3 separate regions of the Homo sapiens genome follow, and regions 2 and 3 are each linked to region 1. Evidence: fine-mapped expression QTL. A gene starts in region 1. Each other region holds a variant in brackets. All regions are shown on one strand. Distances are between the middles of the regions. Region 1 holds the start of DNAAF9 (dynein axonemal assembly factor 9). Region 2 holds the start of LOC105372508 (a long non-coding RNA gene). Region 3 overlaps DNAAF9 (dynein axonemal assembly factor 9).

What was found. PIP is the estimated chance that this variant, and not a neighbour inherited with it, causes the effect.
Region 2: its variant is the best candidate, but not a certain one, in a credible set for the expression of DNAAF9 in monocytes (Quach 2016, PIP 0.83).
Region 3: its variant is the best candidate, but not a certain one, in a credible set for the expression of DNAAF9 in lung (TOPMed, PIP 0.67).

Annotation. Positions count from the first base shown.
Region 1 is chr20:3,401,451-3,411,965 of GRCh38, forward strand. DNAAF9 (dynein axonemal assembly factor 9) reads right to left here and starts at 6,219. Exons shown (of 37, transcript NM_001009984.3): 1 at 6,025-6,219. The coding sequence starts at 6,107. RefSeq lists silencers at 5,883-5,962, 6,023-6,262, 6,303-6,552 and enhancers at 6,543-6,742, 7,119-7,620.
Region 2 is chr20:3,425,533-3,436,047 of GRCh38, forward strand. LOC105372508 (a long non-coding RNA gene) reads right to left here and starts at 5,324. Exons shown (of 3, transcript XR_937212.3): 1 at 5,222-5,324. The variant C/T (reference allele first, on the strand shown) is at 5,390.
Region 3 is chr20:3,240,209-3,250,723 of GRCh38, forward strand. DNAAF9 (dynein axonemal assembly factor 9) reads right to left here. Exons shown (of 37, transcript NM_001009984.3): 37 at 9,098-10,515. Among named protein-coding and RNA genes, the nearest start is that of SLC4A11, 6.3 kb to the left of the region's middle. RefSeq lists enhancers at 7,925-8,670, 8,671-9,415, 10,075-10,515. The variant T/C (reference allele first, on the strand shown) is at 3,839.

The sequences.
Region 1 (10,515 bases):
CGGTCTCCCAAAGTGCCGGGATTACAGGCATAAGCCACAGCACCCGGCTGATGAACCACTTTCTTACCACCTAGCTCGCAACTATGACTCTTCATTCTCTGAATACCCATGAAATTTAACATAGCCCACAGCTTCACCTGTAATTATTATCTTTCATTCAATAAATAATTACTGAAGCAGTGTTTCATAATAGCTAACAATAGCAGTTCATACTCAGCGAGTCCTATGTGCCAGACACCAATCTAAGCAGCAAGGGAAACAATGTGAGAAATGGCAATTAAAAATAGTCCCAGCCCCCTGATACTTTCCAGGGGTGATAGAGAAGATCCTTCCCAATGACCCTCTTGACAATAAAGAAATCCTACCTATGTCACCCAAGCTACCTCGGTATGGGGAGGGGGTGACCGTGGGGAGGGCTCCCCCGCCCCCTTTTGATACAGAAAGATCTGTAGAATCTTTCTATAGAAGATGGTAGAAGGGACGCCAGCACGGGAAATCCTTAATCAGACTGTTTTGCTAGAGCACATCCTCCAGTAGCTTCTTCATAAAACGGGCATGTGAGGTCAAATTTTGAGAACTTACATGTGTGAAATATCTTCATCCTTTCTTACACCTGCCTGAGAGTTTGGCTGGGTGCAGAATTCTGGGTGGGAATCTATTTTCCTTCAAAAGGCACTCTTTGCTCCACTACTTTCTAGCTTACAATCCTGCTAGAATCCTAGCATTCCTGATCCTATCTATGTGACTTACAGATATTGTCTTCATGGTGCTAGAAAATTTCATGATGCTATGCCAGGACATGCATATTTTTATTTTAAATTGACAGATATATATATGTATTTGTGTACCTGATGTTTTGAAGTATATATACATTGCGGAAAAGTTAAATCTAGCTAATTAACAAATGCATCACCTCACATAGTTTTTTTTTGATGAGTACACTTAATATCCACTCTGTTTGCATTTTTCAAGAATATATAATCATTAACTATAGTTACCATGTTGTATAACAGATCTCTTAAACTAATTCCCCTATCCAACTAAAATTATATATCCTTCAATCAACATCTCCCCATCCCCGCTACATCCTAATTACCACCATTCTACTCTCTACTTCTATAAGATCAACTTTTTTTTTTTTTCTTGACACAGGATCTCACTCTGTTGCCCAGGCTGGAGTGCAGTGGCATGAACGCAGCTCGCTGTAGCCTTGACCTCCTTGGCTCACATGATCCTCCCATCTCAGCCTCCTGAGTAGTTGGAATCACAGGCGCATGCCACCACGCCTGGCTAATTTTTCTTTTTTTGAACTTTGTAAAGATGGGGTCTCGACATGTTACCCAGACTGGTCTCAAACTCCTGGGCTCAAGCAATCCTCCCACCAGGGCCAAGATCAACTTTTTTAGATTCTACCGCATATAAGTGAGATCATGTGGTCCTGGCATGGATATTTTAAAATTCATTGTGCTAGATTCTTCGCAAGTCTTTTCAATCTGGAAACGTATGTCCTTTGGTTCTAAGGAATGTATTTATTTTTTTATCATTTCTTCATGTCTTCAAACAATAACTACCTGCTATCTCTCCCTGTTACAGACATCTACAGGTCCCTAGGTCATTCTGTTAATTTATGATAACCTCAATCTTCACCACAATCTTTACCTCTCAGTGCCTTGATTCCCCCACTTCCAATGGTGGTGTCCTCCATCCTACTTCAGCTATTCCCTTCCACATTGCCACATCCAAGCAGCTCAACACAGCTGCAGGAAAAGTGTACAACTATGCTAAGTAGGGTCTCACCTAGGTTTACAACTACAAACATCAAATGGGCACTAGGTGCTGCCTGGAAATCCTAAAACTTTTCCTTATTTTCAACTCATTCTTCCCCATTCTCTTGGATGAATCCAACACCTCTCTTCATTTTTAGCTGAAGACCTTCCTTCTTATTTACCTGAGAATACAGAAGTAATCAGAAGAGAACTTCCACTTTCTCCCACCAACAAGCTACCAGCATTTGGGTTCACATAATCTGCCACCAATGAATTGTTGGCATTGCTCCTGTCTAACTTGAGGCCAACATCCCCATTTACATACTAGATCCCATTCCATCTTACCTACTCAAGGACTTCACCCTTGCAAGTGTCACTTCTCTTTAATCATCAATTGTCCCTCCCTACTGCATCAGCCCATCAATTTACAAACATGCTATAATATCTGCCCATATAAAAACAAAAAGAACTCGACACCTCATGATCTTCCAACTACAGCCCCATTACTCTACTCTCCTTATAACCATCCTCAAAAGAACATCAATATGACTGTCTATATTCAGTGTCTTCAATTCTCCTCTCATTTTCTGCTTTGTAAATTAATCAATTTATGTTTTTTAGAGACAGGGGTCTTGCTATGTTGCCCAGACTGGACTTGAATTCCTGGACTCAAGGGATCCTCCCACCTCAGCCTTCCGAGTAGCTGACCTACAGGTGACTGGCTTCATTTTCTCTTGAACCCACTGCACCAAAACTGTTCTTGTCAAGGTCACTAGTGACCCTCCACATTATCGAATCTAATTGTCTATTATTAGTCCTTTTGTTTTCTTGAGATGGAGTTTCACTCTTGTTGCCCACACTGGAGTGCAATGGCAAGATCTTGGCTCACTGCAACCTCCACCTCCCAGGTTCAGGTGATTCTCCTGCCTCAGGCTCCCGAGTAGCTGGGACTACAGGTGCCTGCCACCATGCCCAGCTAATTTTTTTGTGTGTATTTTTAGTAGAGGTGGGGTTTCACCATGTTGGTCAGGCTGGTCTCAAACTCCTGACCTCAGGTGATCCACCCACCTTGGCCTCTCAAAGTGCTGGGATTACAGGCGTGAGCCACCGTGCCCAGCCTGATTACTAGTTCTCATCACACTGTCAACAATCTCATTCGGCTTTCAATGTCTGTTCTCAATTATTCTCCCACCTCAGAGGTAGGAAACCATTTTCTCTCAGAACTTGGAAGACACTGCTACACTGCCTTTTCTTCTTCTAGTGTTCTTAATACTAATAAATGGCAACTCCATTCTTTCAATAGCTGAGGCAAAAACCGACTAGGCCTTCTTGTATTATTGTTCTTTCGGCCGTATTTCTTCCTCAGTACTTATGACTCACTATTCTATATTATGATTTCTACTGTTACTGTCTCTTCCCCTTTACAAAAGAGTTATTTGAGGGCAGGGGACTGCTGTATTTATCTGACTCTACAGCACCTAACAGAGTACTTGTTGCATAATTTATATAAATAAACAGTGAAATTTAAACTATTAAAGAAGTTTCAAGCAGGAACAGATCGCTCTACAGAAAAACATTTTGAAGTAGAAAGTATCTTTCAGCTAGATTTCCACTGGTTCCTTAGCATTGATCCAGATAGGTTAGTTTATACCTTGGTAATAAGTCCAAAATCCCGGTGGTGTTTCACTTCTTGCTCAACCTACCTGTCAAGCATAGGTCACCTGGAAGCTAGCTCTGGGGCCTTGACTGATGGGTGGCTGCCATTTGCAGCCCCAACAGCTACCATGACAGAAGGAAAGAGAATGGAAAACTACACAACAGAAATTTGTACCATGAAAGGCTACACAGTATTCCCACGCATTTCACTGACCAAAAGCAACTCTTAAGGCCATACCTAACTTCAAAGAAGCAAGCAAGTAAAATTCTACTACATGCTCAAGAGACAGAAACCAAAAATACCTGGTAAGACTGATGACTATCACATGCTTAAAGAGAAGCCTCTCATTCTGAGTAACAATATTTTAATTCTTGATCTCCATTCTCCATCTGTGAAAATGAACTACCGTGCTAGAACCATACACTTGCAGAGTACTATCTATGGGTCTTAGGAATGTCACTTCACCAGTTAGGTTTGCCCCTTCCATCACTCAGCAGTCAGCAGCAAAGCCATATATGGGTGACAGGAAAGTGCTAGTAACATTCAATGTCAAGAGTAAGGGAAAGGCTTGAATGGGCAAGAAAAGCACGTTCAATCATGTAGAAGTGGGGAAAGGAGGGAAGCCTTCAGCAAATTTCTTTCACCAAAGGTATTGGGGGCAGCTAGGCCTTGGGGTTCCTTGCACTATTCCTTGTCTGAAATCAAATTTTATTCAAACCACTTGATAGAAGATTTGGAGTTCGGGTATGATCAGTAAAGTGAGCCAGCATACTTCTTTGAACATAGAATCACTACCTTTAAAAGAATAAATAAAAAGCACATGGCCATGCTACTAAAAACAAGAAAGGCAGCATTTAAGAGACAGATTCTAAGGTAGAGATGATTTTTTTCCCCCTAAAGATCTCAACAGACTCAAATCCAAATTCCTAAGCTCAAGATGATCTGGGATAAACCTCAAGTCCACACAGAGCCTAGATTTAACGGATGGCTGTTCTAAAGTATCCTATGCAATGTCTATACAAGTTCAAATACTTTCTGCTTCAGACAGTGAAACTGGCAGAAATGTTGCAAAGGATTGGAGATGCGTTACTATAAGCAGTTAAACTTGGAACTGTAAAGCCCACAAGGAATTACACTGAAGGGCAGAGCAGGAGTTCAAAAATGTCACCTGACAGATTCGAAGCAATTTAGGACTCCTAAATGCAATGTTTCATTGGTATCTACCCCCCACCTTCTCTATCCTTTATTTGTTCAACAAACATATACTGGATTCTGGGTTGTGGAAAGGAATGCAGGGAAGTAAAAAAGAAACAGGTTTCTAAGAATCAGTTTCTTGTTCTCCAATAATTTGGTCTAGTTAAAGCAAACAAACAACCCCAAAAATCAGATCAGCAAGCAAAGTTAAAACATATGCCTTAAGTACCATAACAAGAATATAAGAAAACTGTTTTAACATGTAGATTGGCAACCTCCTTTCAAGGGAACAATATATTTGCTTTGCTATGTGGCTAGAATAAGAAAAAGCAAACAACAACAAAACCCTCTCCTGTTTTAATGACAGTTTAGCAGTACCAAAGCTCATCGCTCGCATTCCCCCTCTCCCTCTCCTTCTCAAAGGTCTCTGCTGCAACCCCTCCATCATTCCAACCTCCACACTGCGCCGGCGCCCCACACCAGCTCCATCACAAACAATGCCCAGACCAACAAGATCAGCACCAAACGCATAGGGCACAGAAATCGGAAACGGATCTTCCTATATCTAAAGGGGGCGGGGAACGCTCCCCACGATCACCCCCTCCCCATACTGAGGTAGCTTGGGACTGTGTCTCTACGGTAAGGGGCCTGGCGTCCGCCGCTTTCGGAGGTTCTAGGCCTCTTTCCCCTATTTATCCAGTTTTTCCTCCTGCGTCCCTAATACCTCTACTTCCTCCCAACCCGAGCTCCCTATTGTGGAGTGAGGGGGCGTCGCGATGCAGGCTGAGGCAGGGGGAGCTGGGGAAACGCGCGACAGGGGAGATGCTGTCATTATGTACGTAGGGGGCGGGGGACACTCTTTAAGGAAGCCGTTGTCAAGGGCAAAGGCTCTAGAGACCCACGGGAGGGGGCTTTCTAGGTAATCCATTTGGGGGTTCTACACGAGGGAGCTATTGTGTGTGTGGAGGTGTGAGGTCTGTAGAGTAGCAGTTTCTGAGGGAAACATTCCCTGGGGAAGGCGAGTGAGTTATTCATAGGGAAGCCTCTGTGGGGTTCTGTGTAGAAGAATCCTTCCTGGGAGAAACGTTCTATGGGGGTGAGGACGTCATAACAGTGTCTTCACAGGGAATCGCTGTCCCTAGGGAAGCCATTGTGGGGAAACCGTTGCAGGGTTGTCTGTGGGGGAGCCATTGTGGGGAAACCGTTGCGGGGTTGTCCAAAGGGGAGCCATTGTGGGGCCTCTACAGAGGGCGCCGTTCCTGGGAAAAATTCCTCCCTGAGCCGTTCAGCAAAGAACCGTCCCGAGGAAGCCATGTCGGACCACGCCCTGCGGCGGGAGGCGTCGCCGGACCCCGACAGCCCGCATCCCCCGCCCGGCCGCCCCTCGGCTGCCTCTGCCCCGCGTACCTGACGGAGGGTGACCCGCGGCTGGAGCCGCCAGGGGACCGAGCGCGGGGCAGCCCCTGCCGGCGCGGGGGGTACACGTCCATGGCGGCGGACGACTGGCGGCGGAGGAGGACGGTGCAGCTGCGAGGGTCTCAGTTGCCCGCAGGGCGGCTCCACGCTAGCTGCGGCCGGGCGGGGCGGCAGGGCGTGCCGGGTGGGAGGGGGCGCGGCGCGCGGGCCCGGCGGGGGCGGGGGCGGGGGCGTGGAGGGGGCGCGCGCACCGAGAGCGGATGGGGGCGTTGGGAGCGGCTGGAGTTGGGGGTCGGCGCACGGCCACAGGGACCCCACTTCTTAAGCTGCGAGGCCGCCGGACCGGATGTTGGGAGCGCGTGTCCGCAGGGTGAGGGTTGCCACAGCGCCGCCCGGCCTCGTCCTCAAGCCCGGCATCATAGAGCGGGGCTCTGCGCGGCGCCCCCCGGCCACGCACACGGACGCGCCCGGGGGCGGAGCCTCTCCCAGCCCGGCCCCGCCCCTCCGCCTCTGCCCGCCCCGCCCCGCCCGACCAGCCCCGGCCTCCAGCGAAGTCTTCCGCTCCGGCGTCAGGATCCAGCGCACCTCCCCAGTACCCAGCGCACCTCCCCAGTACCCGGCTCGCTTCCCTGTTCTCCGGAACGGTGTCTTCCCGCTTCCTGGTCATCAATTCCGCACCCACCCTTCAAACATCCAATAGATTCCTAGCCGGCCTCGGGTTAGCGCAGCAGTGCGCACCCAGCCCTGCGCAGGGCATGAGCGTTAGAGGCGCACAGGATCCCAGAAGACCCCTAACCTTTACTGTTAAGATCCTAGCTCTACCGGTTTCTGCAGGGACATGTACAAGAAACTTGGGAAATACTGCACTGATAGTTGCCAGGAGTCCTGTATATACAGGACGTATTTAATGATTATTGGCCTGCGTCCTTCGTTGACCTCGTCGGAATGCCTTAAATGTCCTGTATTCATCTTTTTACACTAAATTGCAATAATTAGAGCTATTTTTCTCCCACAGTAATTGGTGCTAGATCACTTAAATTACAACACTGGCTGAAAATCCTTCCTACACTAATGAAGATTTGGACAATCCCTATGGTGTCTCCTTCAGGTTTGGCTGAGGGAAGACCAGAAGGGAGTAGGAATTTAAAGTGCTCGTCTTTCATATTCAAGAAAGGAAAATACTTTTTTAGCTCAAGTCCGGAGTCGTGAACAAATAACCACCATTATTTAGAGATAACTTCTCGTCGGTGCAGCAGCTCTGAAAATCAGCCAATCAGCGATAGCCTCACTCCGGTAACTATGCTTCTTAGTAAATCAATGACAACCCCACGCTTCTGAAAGTCAGCCAATCAGTGACCGCTCTAAGCCTCCGACAATAGCCAATCAACAAGTGCCTGACACCAGCGACCAGGCTTCCGAAAGTCAGTGGGTACTCAGCTGCCGCACTCCACTTCTGATTCGGAAAGACAGCCAATCCCTGAAGGCGAATATTTCCAAAACCATTTTTTTTTCTTTCCCAGACTGAGTCTCATTCTGTCGCCCAGGCTGGAGTGCAGTGGCGCGATCTCGGCTCACTGCAACCTCTGCCTCCCGGTTCAAGCGATTCTCCTACCTCAGCCTACCGAGTAGCTGGGATTACAGGCTCCCGCCACCACGCCTGGCTCATTTTTGTATTTTTAGTAGAGACGGGTTTTGCCATGTTGGCCAGACTGGTCTCAAACTCCTGACCTCAGTTGATCCGCCTGCCTTGGCCTCCCAAAGTGCTGGGATTACAGGCCTGAGCCATCGCGCCCGGCCTTTTTTTTCTTTTTCTCCTTTTTTTTTGGAGACAGAGTCGCACTCTGTTGCTCAGGCTGGAGTGCAGTGGCGTGATCTCAGATCACTGCAACCTCTGCCTCCTGGTTCAAGCGATTCTTGTGCCTCAGCTTCCCAAGTAGCTGGGATTACAGGCCTGTGCCACCAAGCCTGGCTAATTTTTTGTATTTTTAGTAGAGACAGAGTTTCGCCATGTTGGCCAGGCTGGTCTTGAACTCCTGGCCTCAAGTGAATCGCCAGCCTTGGCCTCCCAAAGTGCTGGTATTACAGGCGTGAGCCGCGCCCGGCCTTCAAAACCTTTTATAAGATCAGCTCTGGCTTTGTTCAGAGAGGCTGTACCTTACAAGTACCGCTCTCCCTTGCAAGCAGAGAAGAAATTCACTTTTTTTTTGCATCAGATATTGAGTTCAATTTATTGTTTTGTCCGAGTTCAAAGTTCACAGCTCAAGATTCAATTCCCAGTTACTATTTGGTATGAGTTTGGACTTATGACAGACGCTATGACACCGTCATGAGATTTATCAAATACAACTCTTTCAATTCTTTCTATGCTTGCAGTGATCAATTTTTTAGCTCAAGTCCAGAGTCATGAACAAGTAACCACCATTATTTAGAGATAACTTCCCATCGGTGCAAAAGCTCTGAAAATCAGCTCTAAAAACAATTCAACGGGGCTACACGTGGTGGTGCACGCCTGCAGTCCCAGCAATTTGGGAGACTAAGACAAGTGGATTTCTTGAGCCCAAGAGTTTGAGACCAGCCTGGGCAACGTGGCAAAACCTCATCTCTCTGTCTCTCTCTCTCTATATATATATAGTTTATTTATAAAAATATATATTTATATTATAATTTATGTATACAAATATATTTCATATATGCACACACACACAAATTGGCCAGGCATAGTGGCATGTGTCTGTAGTCGCAGCTATTCAGGAGACTGAGATGGGAGGATCGCTTGAGCCTGGGAGGTCTAGGATGCAGTGAGTTAAGATCAGGCCACTGCACTCCAGCATGGGGGACTGAGTGAGACCCTGTCTCAAAAAAAAAAAAAAAAATCAATGAGTATAGGCACAGATTTGTGCAACCACCACCACAATCAATTTTAGAACATTTTTATCACTCCAACAGGAAAATCCTGTACCTATTAGCAGTCATTCCTCCATTTCTTCCCAACCACCCCAGCCCTAGGCAACCACTAACCTTTTAATTTGCCTATTCTGGACATTTCATGTTATCAGCATCATTCAATATATGGTTTTTCATGACTGGCTTCTTCCATTTAGCATAATGTTTATAAGGTTCATCCATGTTGCAGCATGTATCAGAATTTTGTTCCTTTTCATGGTTGAATATTATTACATTGAATGGATATACCACATCTTGCTTATCCATTTATCTGTTAATGAACAGTCAGATTGTTTCCACTGTTTTGCTATGTTTTGTAGCTAATGCTATTATTAACATTTGTGTACAAGTTTTTTTGTGGACACACAGTTTGTTTCCTTGGCGATCTAGGAGTGGGTTTCTGGATCACATGGTAACTCTACGTTTAACCTTTTGAGGAACTGCCAAACGGTTTTCCAAAGTGGCTGCACCATTTATATTCTCACCAGCATCATATGTGGGTTCTAATTTTTCCATATCTTCCCTAATACTCATTATCTTTTTCACTATAGCCATTTTAGAGGGTATGAAGTGGTATCTCATTGTGGTTTTGGCTTATATTTCCTGATAGCTAATGATGTCAAGCATCTCTTCATGTGCTTATTAGCCATTTGGACCTCCTCCTTTTTTTTTTTTTTTTTTTTTTTTTGAGACGGAGTTTCACTCTTGTTGCCCAGGCTGGAGTGCAATGGCATGATCTCAGCTCAACGCAACCTCTGCCTCCCGGGTTCAAGCGATTCTCCTGCCTCAGCCTCCCGAGTAGCTGGGATTACAGGCATGCGCCACCGCGCCCAGCTAATTTTGTATTTTTAGTAGAGACGGGGTTTCTCCATGTTGGTCAGGCTGATCTCAAACTCCCGACCTCAGGTGATCTGCCCACCTCAGCCTCACAAAGTGCTGGGATTACAGGCATGAGCCGCCGTGCCTGGCCTATACCTCTTCTTTGGAGGAATGTCTGCTCGAATTTTTTGACCATTTTTACTTGGTTACTTGTCCTTTTATTATGTTGTGGTAGCTCTTTATATAGTCTAGATATAAGTACCTTATCAGAAATACAATTTGCAAAAATTTTATCCCATTCTGTGGGTTGTCTTTTCACATTCTTGATATTGTTGTTTGAAACACAAAACTTTAAAATTTTAATGATATCCAGTTTATCAATTTTTTTCTTTTGTTGCTTGTGCTCTATGTGTCATAACTAGGAAACTATTGCCTAATCCAAAGTCATGAAGACGTACCTCTTACATTTTCTTCTAAGAGTTTAATAATTTTGGCTCTTACATTTTAGATCTTTGATTAATTCCAAATTAATTTTTCTATATGATGTGAGGCAGGGATCCAACTTGATTCTTTTCCATGTGGCTATTCACTTGTCTCAGCACCATTTGTTGAACAGACTATTTTTTTCCCCATTGAATTGTCTTGGTACCCTTGTTGAAAATCGATTGTGTTATCTATTTCTTTATTTGTGTATATGTGAATCCACAAATGCCAAATTGC
Region 2 (10,515 bases), 24 kb after region 1:
TGGGAGGCTGAGGCCAGTGGATCACGAGGTCAGGAGTTCGGGACCAGCCTGACCAACATGGTGAAACCCTGTCTCTACTAAAAATACAAAATTAGTTGAGTGTGGTGGCAGATGCCTGTAATCCCAGCTACTCGGGAGGCTGAGGCAGGAGAATCGCTTGAATCTGGGAGGCAGAGGTTGCAGTGAGCCGTGATTGCGCCACTGCACTCCAGCCTGGGCGACAGAGCAAGACTGTCTGAAAAAAATTAAAAAAAAAAGAGATACCATTATATCCATTAATTTGAGAAAAGAATTTTAAGCTTGAGATATTATTTAATATTGCCAGGATATGGAATGGGAACTCTCATACACTTCTGTGGAAAGTATAAATTGGTATAACCGCTTTGGACAGCAATTTTATAATATGTGAAGTAGAAGATACATTGGCTGGATATGGTGGCTCATGCCCATAATCCTAGCATTTTGGGATGCTGAGGCAGGAGGATTGCTTGAGCCCAGAGTTAGAGAGCTGCTAGAGACTAGCAGCCTAGGAAACATAGCAAGACCCTGTCTCAAAAAAAAATTAAAAAGATACATATATGTCCCTAAAACCCAGAAATTCCACGTCCAAAGAAACTCTCAGCTGGGCATGGTGGCTCACGCCTGTAACCCCAGCACTTTGAGAGGCCAAGGCAGGCAGATTGCTTGAGGTCAGCAGTTCGAGACTAGCCTGGGTAACATCAGGAAATCTTATCTCTGCAAAAAAATACAAAATTAGCTTGGCGTGGTGACATGTGCCTGTGGTCCCAGGTGCTCAGGAGGATAGTTGGAGCCCAGGAGGTCGAGACTGCAGTGATCTGTGATTGTGCCACTGCACTCTAGCTTGGGCGACAGATTGAGATACTGTCTCAAAAAAAAAGAAGCTCTTGCATATGGAAACATGTGAAGTAAAACCAAAGATGTTTATCCATGTTCTTTGTAATAGTGAAACTGGTGGGGAGCGGGCGGGGCAGGGGGCAGGGATTTAATATCCATCAAGGGGGTCTCAAATGTGAAACATAAACCAAACATGGAAGAGTTATACAAGGTAATATTATACAATTAAAATGAATGAATATGGTTGAATCTTAGAAACACAGGGTTTAATGAGCTACAAAAGAATATTTATAATTTGACACCATTAATATAAATTAAAATAAACATAACCAAAACAATACTATGTACATAGCAAAGGTATAAAAACCATGAGTGGTTGTTCAGACTGGGAAGGTGAACTCAGTAAGTACATTTTCATCTGCAATTTTTTATTATTTAAATTTTATTTATTAATGTTTTTAAGAGACAGGGTCTTGCTCTGTTGCCCAGGCTGGAGTGCAGTGGTATAATCATAGCTCGCCGAAGCTGCAACCTCCCAGACTCAAACAATCCTCTCACCTCAGCCTTCCGAGCAGCTTGGACTACATGTGTGCACCACCACACCTGGCTAGTTTTTAAAATTTTTGTAGAGATGGAGTCTTGCTATGTTGTCCAGGCTGGTCTTGAACTCCTGGGCTCAAGCAGTCCTCCCATCTCAGCCTCCCAACATGTTGGGATTACAGACGTGAGCCACCATGTCTGGCCTCAATTTTTATTTCCTTAAAAACAGGTTTGATACAAATATGACAAAAATATCAACATTTGTTCATTTGGATGATTGGTACCCAGGTGTTTGTTATATTGGCCTTTTTTCTTATCAGCATATTTAAACTTTTTCAAATAAAGGAGTACTTCTAAATCACTACAAAAATATAAACACCCCCATCAAAAATGGCCAAATGATACAAAAAGCTAATTTGTTGCTAAAAAAGGGTCTTGATCCAGACCCCAAGAGAGGGTTCTTGGATCTCATGCGGGAAAGAATTCAGGGTGAGTTGTAGAGGACAGTGAGAAAAGACCATTTGTTAAAAGCTACTCTTACAGAATTGGGGGTTCTCAGGAAACAGGAGGAACGTGCTTACTTTTAACCTCTTCTTATATAGGAGTCTTGTCTATGTAAAAGGTAAACTAAATTATGGTTACGTGCAGGTGGGCTGACAGCATGACAAAATTTAGTACTTTGCTGATTTAAAGAAGGCTATCCTTGGCATTTTAGTGCATCACTTAAAAAAATATATTGTTATGTGATATTGGGACGTGTGTACATTCTGCCATTGCAGGAGTTTGTCCTTGCAAAAAAATACAAAATTAGCTTGGCATGGTGGCATGTGCCTGTGGTCCCAGATGCTCAGGAGGATAGTTGGAGCCCAGGAGGTCGAGGCTGCAGTGATTCGAGGCATTTTAAAGCTTTCTTTCTTTCTTTTTTTTTTTTTGAGACGGAGTCTCTCTCTGTCACCAGGTTGGAGTGCAGTGGTGCAATCTCAGCTCACTGCCACCTCTGCCTCCTGGGTTCAAGCAATTCTCCTGCCTCAGCCTCCTGAGTAGCTGGGACTACAGGCGCACGCCACCATGCCCAGCTAATTTTTGTATGTTTGGTAGAGACGGTGTTTTACTATGTTGGATAGGATGGTCTCGATCTATTGACCTCTTGATCCGCCCGCCTAGGCCTCACAAAGTGCTTGGATTACAGGCCTGAGCCACTGCGCCCTGCCCATTTTAAAGCGTTTTTAAGCTGTTTCCTCAACTGTAAACATCTTATGACCACCGGCCGGGCGCCCACCACCACACCCGGATAATTTTTGTATTTTTAATAGAGTTGGGGTTTTGCCATGTTAGCCAGGCTGGTCACGAGTAGCTGTGATTATGGGCGTGCGCCACAGTGTCTGGCTAATTTTTGTATTTTTAGTAGCGACGGAGTTTCATCATGTTGGCCAGGCTGATGTTGAACTCCTGACTTCAGGTGATCCACCCGCCTCAGCCTCCCAAAGTGCTGGGATTACAGCCGTACTTTGCTAGTTTTAAAATGGATTTGATTTTTAAACGGTGTCACCCTGGCTCCCCTATGCTCCTGTTTCCCTAATAAATTTATAGAGGAAGAAATACAGATGGCTCAGGAAGAGAGGAAAATACATACAACCTAACTAGACACCAGGAGAAGGAAAATGGAAACAGCAGTGAGCTGCCTTTTTGCTTATTAAGTTGACCCAACCAGGCCGGGCGTGGTGGCTCACGCCTCTAATCCCAGCATTTTGGCCAAGGCGGGTGGATCACCTGAAGTCAGGAGTTCAACACCAGCCTGGCCAACATGGTGAAACCCTGTCTCTACTAAAAATACCAAAAAAAAAAAATATATATATATATATATTAGCTGTGCATGGTGGCTCATGCCTGTAGTCCCAGCTACCTGGGAGGCTGAGGCAGGAGAATTGCTTGAAACCAGGAGGCGGAGATTGCAGTGAGCCGAGTTCTGCACTCCAGCCTGGGCAACAGAGTGAGACTCCACCGAAAACAAACAAACAAAATTGACCCAACCAAAAAAAATAATAATAACTAATGTGGAGAAATGAACACTGCTATCTACTAAATGGAGTATAAATGGGTACAATTTTGCGAAAGGGTGTTTTGGTAAAATATATGCAGCACATTCTTAAACTCACTTTCAATCTGTCTCAAATATTGGATTGGTTAGGATTACATTACTCTGAATAAGTTTTACCTTGTAAGAGTTAATTAACAGTAATTTGACGCAGGTAGAAGATTGTACCTTTCCATGTTGAAGGCGTGGTGACTGGGGTTCACAGTGACCTCAGAACCAGACCCCCTTTGAACTGTGGCCCTTTTGGCCTTCACTCTCCAGATCGCCTCACAGTTTCGTTCCTGCCCCAGCCATTACACCTGCATTCAAGCCGGCAGGATGAAGGAAAGGGAAAAGAAGGGGCAAAGAGTAACACCAGCTGTCTCTTAAGGAAGATTCCCGGAAGCTTCCATGTGATATGTCTGCCTTCATCTGGTGTCTAGAACCTAAATGTATGGCCCTGCTTAGTTAGAAGGGAGTCTGAGAAAGGTAGTTTTGATTCTGGACAGCTAAACTATCTTGTTTGTTTTTCTTCTGGGTACAAGAAGGAGAGAAATGACCGGGCACAGTGGCTCACGCCCATAATCCCAGCACTTTGGGACGCTGAGATGGGTGGATCACTTGAGGTCAGGAGTTCGAGACCAGCCTGGCCAACATGGCAAAACCCCACCTCTACTAACAATACAAAAATTAGCTGGGTGTGGCGGCGGGTGCCTGTAATCCTGGCACTTTGGAAGGCAGAGACAGTCGGATCACTCGAGGTCAGGAGTTTGCGACCAGCCTGGCCAACATGGCAAAACCCCATCTCTACTAAAAATACAAAAATTAGCTGGGTGTGGTGGTGGGCACCTGTAATCCCAGCTACTTGGAAGGCTGAGGCAGGAGAATCGCTTGAATCTGGGAGGCAGAGGTTGTAGTGAGTGGAGATAGCACCACTGCACTCCAGCCTGGGTGACAGAGAGAGACTCTGTCTCAAAAAAATAATTAAAAAAAAAAAGTACGAAAGAATGGATATTAGGAAATAGCAGTATTTGCTGTGGGTGTGTACTTTAATTTTGGTCTGGTCTTTCACGAGCCATATATATAGCACAGAAGTCCCTAACCTTTTTAGCACCAGGGATCGGTTTCCTGGAGGACAGTTTTTCCACAGACCAGGGTGGGGGGATGGTTTCAGGATGATCCAAGTACATTACATTACGTTTATTGTGCACTGTACTTCTATTATTATTACATTGAAATATATAATGAAATAATTATACGACCCATCATAATGTAGAATCAGTGGGAGCCCTGAGCTTGTTTTCCTGCAACTAGACGGTCCCATCTGGGGGTGATGGGAGACAGTGACAGATCATCAGGTATTAGATTCTCATAAACAGCACGCAACCTAGATCTCTCTCATGCGCGGTTCATAATAGGGTTTGCACTCCTATGAGAATCTATGCCGCCGACAGGAGGTGGAGCTCAGGCGGTAATGCTCGCTCGCCTGACACTCACCTCCTGCTGTGTGGCCCGTTTCCTAACAGGCCACAGACTGGTACCGGTCTGTTGGTGTTAAGGCCATCCTGTCCAGATGGCCTTAACCAGCCAGGGTGTCAACCCCCAGCTGTTGTGAATTTTAGTTGCTCTCGGATCACAACTTCCCCTTTCTCCAGAGAACTGTTCTTGGTCTACAGCTGTCTGTCACCTTACCAAGAAATGTCGGGGAGGTTACACCTGTTCTAGGGGAGAGGAAGACAGCCAATGACTTACCAACAGAAGGTCAAAAAGCCCAGCTCTTGACTCAAGGGAGACATCCCTGGAGTACAATTCTTATTCCAATTTCCTGCGTGATCAGACTAGATTCCAGCTGAAACCACATTCTTCACTCCCTCCCTGATATATATGATTCATTCCTGCTCCCTTCCTTCCTATTTTCTA[C/T]ACTTGTCTCACTTCTTGACATGTTCCTCTTGAGAACATACTCTTCATAAATTATGTACACAAGAATCCCCATCTTGGGCTCTGCTTCTAGAGAACATGACCCAAGACAAGTCCGCAGTTACTGGGTAGCAAGGCAAAAAAAGTAAGTTTCAGTCCTGTCCAACGACCGTAGTCTAATGCTAAAATTTGGTCAGTCCTTTAGGTAATGCCTAGTCTCTGTGGTAGATTGGATATTGTTCCCAATTCTTCACTCCCTCCCTGATATACATTATTCATTTCCACCCCATTGACTTTGAACTTAGCTCTAAGACTGACTTTGGCCCATGGAATGTTAGTGGATGTGATGTGAGCCAAGGCTAAAAATGTGCCTGCGTGGTTTGGTTTGGCTCTTGTAATCCCATCTTCTGTTATATAAAGAGCATGTCACAGTCACTGCCGGTCCTAGAATGAGAAGACTTGTGGAGTGGACTTGAATCCCGCTCACAGCCTTGAGCCAAGCCCAGCTGATTCTAGTTGAAGCCAGAGCCCCACAGCTGAACCTGCAACCTATGAGTAGAGAATCAACGCTTGTTGTAAGTCCTTTTATTTCGATGTAGTTATGCAGGAGAAGCATGACTAGTAGAGTCTTTTAAAAATAAATACTCAGGGCCAGACGCGGTGGCTCATGCCTGTAATCCCAGCACTTTGGGAGGCCGAGGCGGGTGGATCACGAGGTCAGGAGATCGGGACCATCCTGGCTAACACGGTGAAACCCCGTCTCTACTAAAAATACAAAAAATTAGCTGGGTGTGGTGGCCAGTGCCTGTAGTCCCAGCTACTCGGGAGGCTGAGGCAGGAGAATGGTGTGAACCCAGGAGGTGGAGCTTGCAGTGAGCCGAGACTGCGCCACTGCACTCCAGCCTGGGCGACAGAGCGAGACTCTGTCTCAAATAAATAAATAAACAAACAAATACTCAGATCTTTGGGTTTTTATACTTGTCCCATTTTCAGAGGGTGTCTGGATGAACAAGGAGAGGTGGGTTTATGTGTCTAGCTCCTACTTGCTGACGTCTGTCACTGAGGAGATCCATCTTTTTCTGTTTGAGCTGGGTCTGATGACTTAGCCTCTCATTGGCTTTCGCTTGCCTTGTGGACACCTCTGAGTCCTGGTTCTGCCCCCTCTGTTCCCGTCCATGCTGATCAGTCCACTCAGCACCCTCTGCGGCCCCAGGACAGACCTACTGACTCTCAGCATTTGCTCTACCAAGGATCATAACAGGAGGCCAGTCGAGGCTGTAACCCTGCTTAACCATTCTGCACATTACTCTTAACTGGATTCAAGCAGGGCCATTCTACATGGTGGCCTCCTTCCAGAATCCCAAATATGGAATAGATCAAATGCCTCCTGCCCTTGAAGCCCAGTTGAATTATCAAACTACCTCTGCTTCTTCATGATTCAGTCTAGAACAGAGAGACTAGGGCCCATGTATTCCATAGTCATTCTCTGCTACCTCTCCCTCATTTTCTTCTCCATCATACCCTCAGGCCTAGGCCTAGGTTTTGAAAGCACACTATGGAAGAAATGCTCCAACCTCAGAGTCTTCATATGTCAAATGAAAACTAAAGGAATTTAGAAAACGATTTTCCTCTTGACAACATCTTGCTTTGGAGCCTATTGATTTGCAGTAAAACTCCATTGTGAATGTCCAAAGCTGCAAAAAAAAAAATTCCTCTTTGCTTATCCCCTGCAATATATCAAATCCTCCCCACCACCTTGATGGAATGGATAAGTTGTGATAGACATAGAGATATGCGGCCCAGATCTCCCTTCAGGGAAGAACTTGCTGCCTGGCTGCAGAGAATGTGGTCAGTCCCTCCAAAGGTAGCCAGTGTGCAATGACTGAGTCGGGTGGAGGCATAAAGACCTCCCTCTTTGGGGTCAACATGGGACACTTTAATGAGCAATTCTCACTCAAAAACTCCCTGCCGTGTTGGCTGAAGCTTTATTAGGCCTGCATCACAGTTTAACTTCTTCCTCTCCCTAGTTTGGCTTCTGCCCCCTTCTTTTCCATAATAAGCGTGTTTTGTTTGTTTGTTTGCCTGCTTGCTTGCTTTTTGAGACAAGGTCTTGTTCTGTCACCCAGGCTGGAATGCAGTGGCATGATCACGGCTCATTGCAACCTTGACCTCCTGGGCTCAAGTGATCCTCTCACAGAGTTGGAATTACAGGTGTGAGCCACTACACCTAGTCTTTAAATCTTTAAAGATTTGAAGTATGGAATTGGAAAAGAGGAGACAAAATTATCTAGATTTTCAGGGGATATCAACATATACTTGTAAACTCCAAGGAAACCTTGTGGTGGATAGAAAATACTCATTTCCACCCTCTCCAGAAACCTCACTAAAAAGGTGGTAAAGAGTTCTCTTAAAGATATAAAAGACAAAGATAAAGGATATGAACAAATTGTACATATAAAAAATGTTGAGCTGAGTGTAGTGGCTCACACCTGTAATCCCAGTACTTTGGGAGGCCAAGGCACATGGATTGCTTGAGCCCAGGAGTTCAAGACCAGCCTCATCAACATAACAAGACCCTGTCTCTACAAAAAATTTTTTAAAAAATAGCTGGGCATGGTGTCACATACCTATAATCCCAGCTGCTCAGGAGGTTGAGGCAAGAGAATTGCTTGAGCCTGGGAGGTCGAGGCTACAGTGGGTTGTGTTGGTGCCATTGCACCCCAGCCCTGGTGACAGAACAAGATCCTGTCTCAAAAAAAAAAATATTAAATGAAAAAAGCAAGATGGAGAACACTGTACCTAGCATGCTATCATTAGTATAAACAAAAGACAGGTAGAGTCTGGATAACTGAGGGGAGCAGGAGGTCCCCAGGAAGGCCTGTTTTCCAAGGAAAGAGGAGGAACAGAGAGGACAGTGAGGGTGAGGGCGGCTGCTGTCTCCTAAATCTGTCACCTCCCCTTCTCTGCTTTGGCAGCCATTATGTCCATGGGTCTCTGGCTTGTCTTGTGCAATACTTCCTTGTGTTAAACTCCAAGATATCAATGGGCTGATGAGAGTTCCAGCGTGAGCTACGTGACTGGATGGGTGCTTGGAATAAGAATCCCATGCCCCAGAGAGCAAGACCAGCAAGACAATACTGACTAAGCCACTTTCCCCTGTAAGCCACCCTGGACCCACTTCTCAGTCCTAAGGACTAATGACATAAACTGGATGATGGTCACATAAAAATCTTGGTGAGATGCTGGAAGTCTAAAGTGGTCCCTTTGGGATCATAATGTAAGAAAGTGGCTTCAAGGCATATTTCAGCATAGAGTAACCTTGGCATTGGAAGCACTTTGCAAAAACATAAGAGGCCATGCTAACTCTTTTCATACAACAGAGGCCTGGCAGGTGACATTTCCAGAGGGAGAATGGAAGATTCTGAGAGCACTGCACAAGAGTCTCCCTTAGACACTTCTAGAACATATAGGAGGCTGTGGTAGAAGGGAACTGAAAGTTCAAAGTGTTGATCATGTGCACTGACTAAGCCTTTGTATTTAAAATCAAGATGACATCATAACGGCCTGATTTTCTTTCTTTCTTTCTTTCTTTTTTTTTTTGAGACGGAGTCTCGCTCTGTGGCCCAGACTGGAGTGTAGTGGCGCAACCTCGGCTCACTGCAACCTCTGCCTCATGGGTTCAAGCGGTTCTCCTGCCTCCCCAGGTAGCTGGGATTACAGGCATAAGGCACCGCACCTGGCCAACCTGATTTTCTTAAAAATAAATCTGGGTTTAGATTATTGGTAGAAACATTAAGTGATGTTGTGTCTTCTCAGTGCAACACACCAGTCAATTTTCACGTTGATGGTGATGCTAAGTGTAATCTGATGGTCAACGTGGTGACCTTCAGCTCTCTCTGTGGTAAAGATACGTTTTCCCTTTTGCGATTACTAAACAGCCTGTAGGGTGATACATTCAAACCTTATGAATATCATTTTTCCCAACCCCCTTTATCCTAATAGTTTTACATTCCATTGATGATGCCTGCCTGAATCAATTATTAATAGACTGGTCATAAAATGATGATTTTTCCATTTCTATCATTCCATCTACATTCACAATTTGGCATTCTTTTATGAAGAAGAGCTTTCTTTTCTTTTTTTTTTTTGAGATGGAGTCTCACTTTCTTGCCCAGTCTGGAGTGCAGTGATGCCATCTTGGTTCACTGCAACCTCTGACTTCCAAGTTCAAGCAATTCTCCTGCCTCAGCCTCCCAAGTGGCTGTGATTACAGATGGGCATCAGGACGCCTGGCTAATTTTTGTATTTTTAGTAGAGATGGGTTTTTGCCATGTTGGCCAGGCTGGTCTTGAACTCCTGACCTCAAGTGATCCACCCACCTCAGCCTCCCAAAGTGCTGGGATTACGGGTGTGAGCCACCTCACCTGGCCCTCTTTTCTACCCCCTTTAAAATTTTTGGTGTTGGCCAGGTGCAGTGGCTCACGCCTGTAATCCCAACATTTTGGGAGGCTGAGGTGGGAGGATTGCTTGAGCCCATAAGTTCGAGACCAGCCTGGGCAACATAGCAGGATCTTGTCTCTATTAAGAAAAATAATAATAAAATAAAATACCATTGTTGGTTGTTTTATTTATTTATTGTGGTGGTTGTTGTTTTGAGACAGAGTCTCTCTCTGTTACCCAGGTTGAAGTACAGTGACATGATCATAGCTCACTGTAACCTCGAACTCTTGGGCTCAACTGATACTCCTGCTTTGGCCTCCCAAAGTGCTGCGATTACAGGTGTGAGCACAGGCCAAAATTTTTGGTGTTAATATCAATAGAGACACATGGATTCCTTTTGATTCAATATATAATAATCCATTCCTGCATTATTCATATGAGGCTGAGATTGTCCCAGATTTTGACATGAGGGCCTCCATAAAAATGTAGATTGCAAGCCACCTTCTCCCTCTCCTCCAGTGGGGCCTGGGATTCTGCATATATAACTACCACTAAACTAAAATCTGAAACACCCACTAAATCTGAAAAGTTGAGGAAAAGCCCTTGCCAAGGACCAGCTGAGGAGTTTATGTTAAGAGTGGTTTCACACCCACCAGGCAATACAGCTAGAACTTGACAAGGGCATCCTC
Region 3 (10,515 bases), 160 kb before region 1:
TGTGCCCTAACCATGGTAGAGGAACGGGGACAGGCCGGGGCAAGCCCACCTCTGCGAAGGAAGGGCTTCTGGCGCGTTGGGGAAGCCTCATGCATAGATTGGGTGAGTAAGGCTGGCCCAGTTCTCCTCCCGGCAAGATAAGAACGCATTAGGAGGGAAGCGCTGGAGTGCTCCTCTTGGCGACGGATGGCCTGGGGCTCTGCGACAGACTGAGTACCCCACCCTCCCCCAGCGCGACTCCAGGAGGCCTTGTGGAAGATCCCAACACCATGACCTGCAACTGACTTGGGGCTGGCCACATAGTATTTTAGCAGGGGTGACTCTGGAGAGACACCAGGTCATCCTGCGCACCCCTTGGGACCTTTCCTAGACGCCCTCCAGCTAGAGCTCCAGTCCAGGCACTGACTCCCGGGTGGCGGGTGGAGGCTGAGGAAGAGCTGAAGGACACAGGCGGATGTCGCCCCCGGAGCATGGCTGCATAGGTGGCATGCAGGCTGGATCCCTGAAAAGCCACCTTGCCACCCCCAGTCTCCCCCATCTGGGAATGCCTTGGCTTCTGCACCTGCTCCCAGCAGCTCCCAAACACCTGGTCCTTCCAACCCACTTGTTCCAGGAAAGCCTCTGGGATGGAGGGCGCTTCCCCTTACCACAGTCTCCTCAGCGCTCCTCAAAGGACCTAACCCCTCAGCCCACTGAGGAAAGAGGAGCCCATGACCAAGCCGCCCCTAGTCGGCTATGGGCCCCCTCTGTCCGCTCCCTGACCGTCTCTCAAAGGAACTGGCACTGAGCCCTTCTCTGCTACACCTGTGCTCTGCCCCTGCGGTTCTGTTCCCTCGGCCTTCCTGGAGGGAACCCCTGAGGCCCACACGCCTGCTGCCTCCAGACTGACCGTTTCAGAGGCTGTTTCCTTCAGTCCTCCCACCTGCCTCCTGTCCTGTGTAGATCGTCTGACGCTGAAGGCAAATACTGGTGCCCCAGATCTCCTGTCCTGTGCCCCACTGGGTCCTTACATAGGCAGGCAGGTTGAGGGACCCAGACGCAGGCACCCACTTTCCCTCTCATTCCCTCCCTTGGGGTCTCAGACTTTACTGGGCTGTGGACTTGAAACTGTAACCGCTGGGTTCCACAAGGCGCACTTAACAGTTTTCTGCTGTCCTCCCCTGATGCCACTTATCTTGCCTGTGGATTGTAGAATCTGGGGTCTGAAGTAAATGTATAACATCTCATTTTTAGGCCGGGCTTGGTGGCTCACACCTGTAATCCCAGCACTTCGGGAGGCAGAAGTGAGAGGATTGCTCAAGCTCAGGAATTCGAGACCAGCCTGGGCAACACGGTGAAACCCCGTCTCTACTAAAATTACAAAAACTTAGCCAGGCATGGTGGCATACGCCTGTGGTCCCAGCCACTCAGCAGGCTGGTGTGGGAGAATTGTTTGAGCCAGGGAGGTCAAGGCTGCAGTGAGCCAAGACTGCATCACTGCACTCCAGCCGTGGTGACAGAGAGAAACCCTATCTCAAAAAAAAAAGGGCTCATTTTAAAAACAAAACATTCCCCGGCCGGGCGCGGTGGCTCACGCCTGTAATCCCAGCACTTTGGGAGGCCGAAGTGGGCAGATCACAAAGTCCAGAGATGGAGATCATCCTGGCAAACCAACATGCTAAAACCCCCTCTCTACTAAAAATACAAAAAAATTAGCTGGGCATAGAGGCGCATGCCTGTAGTCCCAGCTACTCGGGAAGCTGAGGCAGGAGAGTTGCTTGAACCCGGCAGGTGGAAGTTGCAGTGATCCGAGATCGTGCCACTGCACTCCAGCCCAGGCGACGGAGCGAGACTCCATCTCAAAAAAAAAAAAAAAAAAATTTCCCTTAAAGCCCCTTGCCCTCCGGGTGCTGCCTTATCCCTCAGCTACATTTAAGAGGAAGTTTCTCCAGAGCTCCATGCCCCTCCCGCTATGTCTCTTCAACCGACTCATACCTGTCTTTTGTCCCCACCACACCACTGAAACTGCTGAGACTCCATCTCAAAAACAAACAAACAAAACAAAACAAAAAACAAAAAGTAAACCAGGTGCGGTGGCACATACCTATAATCCCAGCTACTAGGGAGGATGAGATGGGAGGATCCCTTGAGCCCAGGAGTGTTGAGACCAGCTTGGGCAACATAGGGAGACCCACCCATCTCAAAACAAACAAAAAACCCAAAGGAATGTTAAAGGCAGATATCTCCATGGAGGCATTTCAGGCCTATGACGCCCTCCCGAAGCTCTCTTCTCCATCCTCCATCCTCCATTCCACTCAGGCTTTCTGGTCTAGCCTAATGGGCATCCCAGCCAGATACTCCCGACTCCCCTCTGCCTCCTTCCTCTCACCCTGGATGGCCACATTTCACTGAGTCATTTTATTTCTTTGATTTTTATTTTGTTGAGGCAGAGTCTCACTCTGCCACCCAGGCTGGAGTGCAGTGGCACAAACACGGCTCACTGTAGCCTCGATCTCCTGGCCTCAGGCGATCCTCCCACATCAGCTGGGACTACAGGTGTGCACCACTGTGCCTGGCTAATTTTTTTTTTTTTTTTTTTTGAGAGAAATGGGGTCTCACTCTGTCTCACAGGCTGGAGTGCAGCGATGCAATCTTGGCTTACTGCAACCTCCGTCTCCCAGGTTCAAGTGATTCTCCCGCCTCAGCCTCCCCAGGAGCTGGGATTACAGTCATGCACCACCATGCCTGGCTAATTTTTTTTTTTTTTTTTTTTTTGAAACAGTTTTGCACTGTTGCCCAGGCTGGAGTGCAGCGGCGCCATCTCGGCTCACTGCAAGCTCCACCTCCTGGGTTCACGCCATTCTCCTGCCTCAGCCTCCCGAGTAGCTGGGACTACAGGCACCAGCCACCATGCCCGGCTAATTTTTTGTACTTTTAGTAGAGATGGGATTTCACCCTGTTAGCCAGGATGGTCTCAATTTCCTGACCTCATGATCCGCCTGCCATGCCTGGCTAATTTTTGTATTTTTGGTAGAGGGGGTTTTGCCATGTTGGCTAGGCTGGTCTTGAACTCCTGGCCTGAGGTGATCCACTGCCTCGGCCTCCCAAAGTGCTGGGATTACAGGCATGAGCCACTGTGCCTGGCATTTTTTTTTTTTTAATTTTTGTAGAGATGGGGATCTCACCATGTTGCCCAGGCTGGTCTCAAGCTCCTGGGCTCAAGCGATCTTCCCACCTCAGCCTCCCAAAGTGCTGGGATTACAGGTGTGAGCCACCGTGCCCAGCCTTATTTTTATTTTTTTATATTTATTTATTCATTAAGACAGGGGCTTGCTGTGTCGCCCAGGCTGGAGTGCAGTGGTGAGACCACTGCTCACTGCAGCCTCAACCTCCCAGGTTCCCGCAATCTGCGCACTTCGGCCTCCCAAATTGCGATTACAGGTGTGAGCCACGGCACTCAGCTGAGTCCTTTTATTTCTACCTCGGGTCTGCAGCATCCTGGCTGCCATAGCCTTCCTTGGACCCTTGGCAGGCATGGCTTCCCATACCTCGCAGCCAGCCGCTCTCTCTGAAGTCACTGGGATTTTACCAGCCTCTTGGGGCTCCCGCTGCCTTGACCGGTGTTCTCAGCCTCTGGTAGCCCTTCTCCAGCTGCAGCTGCTCCGCCTCCTCGCTGTTCCTGGGGAGGAGAGGTGCTGTTCCCACGCTCTCTCTCTATGATTGAGGACTTGTCATCTGTAATGGTTAGTTATTTATGGGAGCCCTATGTCCAGCTCTGAACCAGGCCAAGTGACTGGGCTCAGCTGCCCACTGAATCAACTGCCTGATACTCCCTGGTGGTCTAACTGGACCCCAACAA[T/C]CATGCCAGTCTCCTGTTCCCCTCCAAATATTTTTAATTTTTTTAGACAGGGTCTTTCTCTGTCACCCAGGCTGGATTACAGTGGCGCAATCATAGCTCACTGCAGCCTTGACCTCCTGGGCTCAACTCATCCTCCCACTTCAGCCTCCCAAGTAGGTGAGACTACAAGCAGGTGTCATCACGCCTGGCTAATTTTTTTATTTTCAAAATTTTTGGAAAAGACGGCCTTGCTGTGTTGCCCAGGCTGGTCCTGAACACCTGGCTTCAAGAGATCTCAATCTTTGTTTAGACTGTCTTCCCCCACGCCATAACTCTTCCTGTCCCGTCAGCTTTTGCTTTCTATCCGTGGGAGCCCAGCATGAGACTGGTTGTCCTGGTAATGCTGCAGGGTGCTGGGAGGGGGAACATAGCCTCCACTGGCCTCCTCTCTTTCCTGGGGGGCATCTCCCGGCCCCTTGGGTAGGTGGAAGGACAACCCTTTGGTGCTCAACAAACACAGCAATAAGCCCTCTCTCAGTTGCCATCTACCCCTACTGAGAGAAAGATCCAGGCTACTATAACATAAGGGCATCCAGGAGGGCAAGGAGCCCCTGCCCTGCAGAGGGTCAACAAGGACCTGCTACCCTCAGGATGGCATCTGTCTGCCCCGCCCCTCAGTCCATACTCACAGTCCAAAGCTAGCATGGGCAGGAGTGGGCTAGGGCTCTTGGCTCACTGATTCTAAGAGCTCATGAATTCCAGGCATACAGACTGTCAAGGTCTTGTGGCAGGCATGCAGCAGACCACTGGGCAGGAAGATTCTGGGGCTGCCCCACTGCCCTCCTGTCAGGCCTCTCTGCCCTCCACAGCCCAGCCTCTCACAACCAAACACTGGCTTCCTTCCCCACCCTCACCTACCCCCAGGCCCTACTCCATCAAAATCCCATCACCTGCTACCCAAGGAAGAATTCTACCTGGTGACCCTAAGGTTCTCTGGGTAGACTGTCACCTCCTGGCCATCCTTGGCCAATCTGTGTCCCTCATGTCTTCCTCACCCATGGCTCTCCTCGCTGGTCCCCATCCTGCTCAGGGGCCTGGATGTCACCATTGGGGGCTGATGTGGCCTGAGACCCCATCCAGGTCACCCTCCTCTCCAGCCCCAACTCCTCCCAGGAATTTGGAGGCACAGGGAAGAGAGAGGTGGTGGGGAGGCCCAGGGCAACACCCTGGAGCAAGACCTCCAGCCTCTTTAGATCTCTGATCGTTGTTATCTATAAAACAAATAAGCTGGAATGGAGTTTTCGTAGCTAGAAAATTCCATGAATTTTGTCTCAAACTGAAATAATCTTATCAAACCATCTTTCCAGTTCCTGTTGTCCTTATTTCTCTATTTGTACATTCATCCAGGCATGAAATTTCAGAGTAGAGATGAAAAGTTTCTTAAACATGTCCAGTCATGAGAGGAAAACAAAAATCACACTTTATTGCTGCAGGAAAAGCAGTAGTAATTTGTGGGATAAAATGAAAATTATTCACACTTTATTTGGTTAATATATATATAAATATATTTTACAGATTTACAGTCATTTATGAGTAGGACATAAAATTTATTGAATCTGATGTAATTTTTTAAAAAACCAAACTCTTTTAGCTGGTCAATTTAGGAATGCAGAGGCCTGGGAAAAACAGGAATAATTTGTGGATAAACAAATTTATTTTTCATCAAATTTTTAGAGATGAAACAAAAAAAGTATTTGGATTTGTTTCAAAACGTTGGGTTTTTTCCACTTGGGCTTTTTCCACTTTTACCTCGAGGTCATCTCCTTAGCTGTTGCCTAGTTAGTCATGGTCTTGTCAATTGTTCCTTCAAAATGGCTCTCCAGTTGGTCCACTTCTCACCTCCACCCACGTGGAGCAGCAGCCCATTCCCCACATCACAGTCTATATGACCTTTCTTTCTTCTTTTTTTTTTTTTTTTTTGAGAAGGAGTCTCGCTCTGCCACCCAGGCTGGAGGGCAGTGGCACCATCTAGGCTCACTGCAACCTCCACCTCCCAGGTTCAAGCAATTCTCCTGCCTCAGCCTCCTGAGGAGCTGGGATTACAGGTGCCCGCCACCACGCCCAGCTAATTTTTGTATTTTTAGTAGAGACAGGGTTTCACCATGTTGGTCAGGCTGGTCTTGAACCCCTGACCTCGTGATCCACCCACCTTGGCCTCCCAAAGTGCTGGGATTACAGGTGTGAGCCACCACCTCCGGCGTTTTTTTTTTTTTTTTTTTTTTTTTTGAGATGAAACCTCGCTCTGTCGCCCAGGCTGGAGTGTGATGGCACGATCTCGCCTCACTGCAACCTCCGCCTCCCGGGTTCAAGTGATTCTCCTGCCTCGGCCCCCGCGAGTAGCTAGGATTATAGGCACCTGCCACCACGCCCGGCTAATTTTTGTATTTTTAGTAGAGACAGGGTTTCACCATGTTGGCCAGGCTGGTCTAGAACTCCTGACCTCAAGTGATGCGCCTGCCTTGGCCTCCCAAAGTGCTGGGATTACAGGTGTGAGGCACCGTGCCTGGCTCTACATGACCTGTCTTTTTCTCTTTTTTCTTTTTTTTGACCTTTCTTTTGTTTAAGAAAAATAGATTCTCAGACAGGATCCCATGATCACTGGTATCCCTGGGTTGTGCTGAGGCACTATAAAACCAAACAATGGGCTGGGTGCAGTGGCTTACTCCTGTAACATAGCACTTTGGGAGGCCAAGGCAGGAGGATGACTTGAGCCCAAGAGTTTGAAACCTGCCTGGGCAACATAGATAACATCTCTACAAAAAATGCAAAATTTGGCCCAGCATAGTGGTGTGCACCTGGAGTCCCAGCTATTCGGGAGGCTGAGTGGGGAGGATGACCTGAACCCAGGGAGGTTGAGGCTGCAGTGAGCTGTGATCTATAGCCTAGGCTACAGAGTGAGACTCTGTTTAAAAAAAAAAATGTAGGTTAGCTGGGTGAGGTGGCACATGCATGTAGTCCTAGCTACTCAAGAAGCTGAGATGGGAGATTACCTGAGCCCCAGGAGGTTGAGGCTGCAGTGAGCTATAATTGCACCACTGCACTCCAGCCTGGACAACAGAGTGAGACTCTGTCTTAAAAAAAAAAAAAAAAAAAAAAAAAAAAAAGCCAGGTGTGGTGGCTTATGCCTGTAATCCCAGCAGTTTGGGAGGCTAAGGCTGGTGGATCACTTGAAGTCAGGAGTTCAAGACCAGCCTTCTCAACATAGTGAAACCCCTCCTCTAGTAAAAATACAAAAAAAAAAAAAAAAAGTTGGGTGTGGTGGCATGTGCCTATAATCCCAGCTACCCGGGAGGCTGAGGCAGCAGAATCTCTTGAACCCAGGGGGTGGAGGTTGCAGTGAGCCGAGATCTCGCTGCTGCACTCCAGCCTGGGCGACAGAGCGAGACTGTATCCAAAAAAAAAAATAATAATAATAAAAATCAAGTAGGTGTCTGACTTATCAGAAAAGCTCAGAAACTGCAGGGAGATGCGTAATGCTGGTTTAGGGGAGCAAGCCGTTCTGTGGGGGGCCCACCTCTCAGATGGGCCTGGTATGGAGACCCAAGGCCAGGCTAATCAGAAAACTCCATTCCTCCTGACCATGGTAATTATTCAGGGATGAGAATGTGATCCTTGCCTATGGGACCCTGGTGCTGCTGGTGGTGTAAGGGAAGCTTGCTGCAGGGGAAGAATGAAGCCACCGAAGATAGAGGGTTCTGATGACATACTAGTGCCTGCGCCTGGCTGACCTGTAGCTGGTACTAGTCTGGACTCCTGCAGAAACCAAGCTGATCTCTTTCTGTCATGGGCTGGAAGTGGGTCACATGGTCATGTCTTCTTTGGGTATAACTTTTCCCTAGAGTGTAGGATAGAGATTAACACTGGTGTTTCTCTGTGTTCCTTGGCGGGCTCTCTGATTTTCAGCAGCTCCACATGAGATCTGCTCTAAATCACTTTTCACAATCGACTCTGCCAGGATTCCCTGACTCTGGGGCTCCCACTCTGGTAAGCAGCACTAGGGTTTCAGTAGTCCCCTGTCCCTACTGAGAGCTCCAGGTGGAAGATGGGATCCTTTCCCCATCCTCAGGTTTCCTGGCCTCTAAGTCCCTCTGAGAGCCCTTCACCATTTACTGTCTCCCCATCGTTCTGGCAATTCCTAGGGGTTAATCCCCAAACCCTAGAGGTTTTGCCGTAATGCAACCGCAGGCGCTCCATCAAAGTTCAAACCCCGGCCTGCAGGATGGGGATGCCGGAGGCTCTGGGGAAGAGGTTGTGAAAGGGTAACACTGCCGCCAGCCCCCTCCCCCAAGTCTACCAGGCCCTTCCCGTGCAGATTTGCATTTGGTTTGCACAGGACTAATTTATCTCAAGGAACTTCCAAACCTAAGACCACCATCCCAATCACCTGAAGCTATCTGCGGAGGCTACACCCTTTCCCCCGGGCCAGCTTCCACATCTGCCCAGTGGGGCATTTCCCCTTGTCCCACCCAGCGACTGGTTGACAGGAAGCAGGGTGTCTATGGACTGGCGGCGGGCGCCCCTTTTCCTCACCTCCCTGCGCGGCCAGCGGGGGCCCGGGGTGTGGTCAGGTGGGAGGCCCGCGCCACGTGCGGCAGGAACCGCCTGGCGAGTGGAACCCGAGCTTGCACGGGGACAGCTGATGCCTTTCTGGTCGCTCCTCTAGAGCTCCGCGGGCTCCGGCAAACCCCCCCGTTAGAACTTGCGGTTCCAACGCGCAGCGCCAAATCTGGCCCTTACTTGACCCGTCAGCGCCTCCAGTCGTCCCCATGTATAAAGTAGGACCGAGGAGCCACCTCGCCAAGCTTTCACTGCGCGGAAACGCGCCCATCAGGCTGGAAAGGCGTGGTTCCTACTACAGCTCGGCCGCGGCAGGCTGGGGCCGAGAACCGGCACCCGTGCACGGCGGACTAAGACGAGGGTGAGGGACACGGGTGGGCCGGGAGAGCCCCGTTCCCATAGCCGGCTTCCTTGAGCCCCTCCCCAAGTTCTGGGACTCCCCAAGTTCCCACCCCGCAAGCCAGTGTGGTTTCTTCAGATGAATTTTATTCTTACTCTCCACGGGCTGCTCCGGCGTCTAGGGAGGGAGTGTGAGCTCCGAGGACTTCCCGCAGCATCCCCACCAGAGGCGTCCAGGGGAGGCTGAGGGCCGGCCCCCGTCACCCCCGCCCCAGGAGCACACGGGACTGAGTGTATGGCACAGGCATCGTCTGGAGGCCTTGCTTGTTCAGTGATAGTTTATTGGTCCTTAGCATGACATCTCGATTACCAAGGTAAATTCACATACACAACTGCAGGTAAAAACATGTAAAATAATATAAAAATAAATTGAAGGCTACTTTTATATATTTACTGAATTAAGTAGTGTAATAAATACTATGATAAGCAAAAAGCTTCAATCGCACAATTCAGTTTCACTGAAGTTACAGTAGTGTTTGTAAATACGAGTTTTAAAATTTAAGTTACAAATATTAAAGCACTGAAAAACTAGTATAAAAGTGAATTTTGGCACGTAAGTGAGCTCTTATGTCATTAGTATTTGACATCCTGGGACAATGAGGAAGCCAGTTCTCACCTACTTTTTTGAGGTACAACTATCCAACTAGATCAGCAACACGGCTGGAATACTTCGTAGTTTACAATCTTTGAATTGAACTTTTCCCTTTTGAGAAGCCCAAGGAGCAACCCAGAGCTTCTTACTGTGCAAAAATTCTCCAAAATCCTAATAGAATTTAGGAGGGAACTTTTTCTTGCGACCTGAAGGGCCCAGTGTCCAGGCTTCAGGTCAGATAGCCCCCAGGGCTCAGAGGGGCCGGCTCAACTCCTTGCCAACGGCCCTTCCCTAGGATAATAATCCCATTTCCTCCAATTTCTGTCTCCTTCTTCCAATCAAAAACAGAAAAATCCCATGTAAAAACATAAAATAACCCGTAACTTCAGCGACTTCAACATTATCCCACGCACTCTGGGTGATATAAACTGAAGCTGCTAATAGGAAAGTTAGCAAAAAGCATGTAAGCCCCGGGAGGACTGCCTGTCCCTGGGAACCCACCCCCGCTCTTTGCTGGGTCCCTGGATCCACTTCTAAGGTCAAAAGCAGTGTCATGGCCATTCCTTTGGAAACAGCAGAAGACCCTGCTCCTCCCACCTGGAGCGCCGCCTGGAGGAATCAAGTGGATACTGACCTTCACAGAACAGAGAGGCCTGGCAGGTTCCAGGAGGCATCCCCTGGCCTCAGTCCTCAAAGAGCTCACAGTGCACCGCGGGTGTGCCTTATCAGTGGGGCAGAGCAAGTGGCCCCAGGAATGCCCTTTCGCCAGCTGCCCCTTCACGTTCCCGAGTAGGCTGAGGAGCATCAACAGAGGCCTCAGCCAGTTTTGCCTTTTTGGCTTTGATGCTTCTTCACGTTTTGACTTTTTTCAATCACAGTTTCATATTCAAGTTGAGGTAATCACAGTTTTTTCTCTAAGAGGAGAGGAGTTGGGACAGTGGGGCAAGTTGGTGAGAGAGCATTTCTGTGAAGAGAAACAAAGACCACCACGTAGTACAGCCCCACATGGTGAGAAGACCCGCTCTCACGGGCGGGCTCCGACCCCTCTTTAAAAACTCTTCTGCAGCAGCCAGACTGCCAGGCCAGTGCA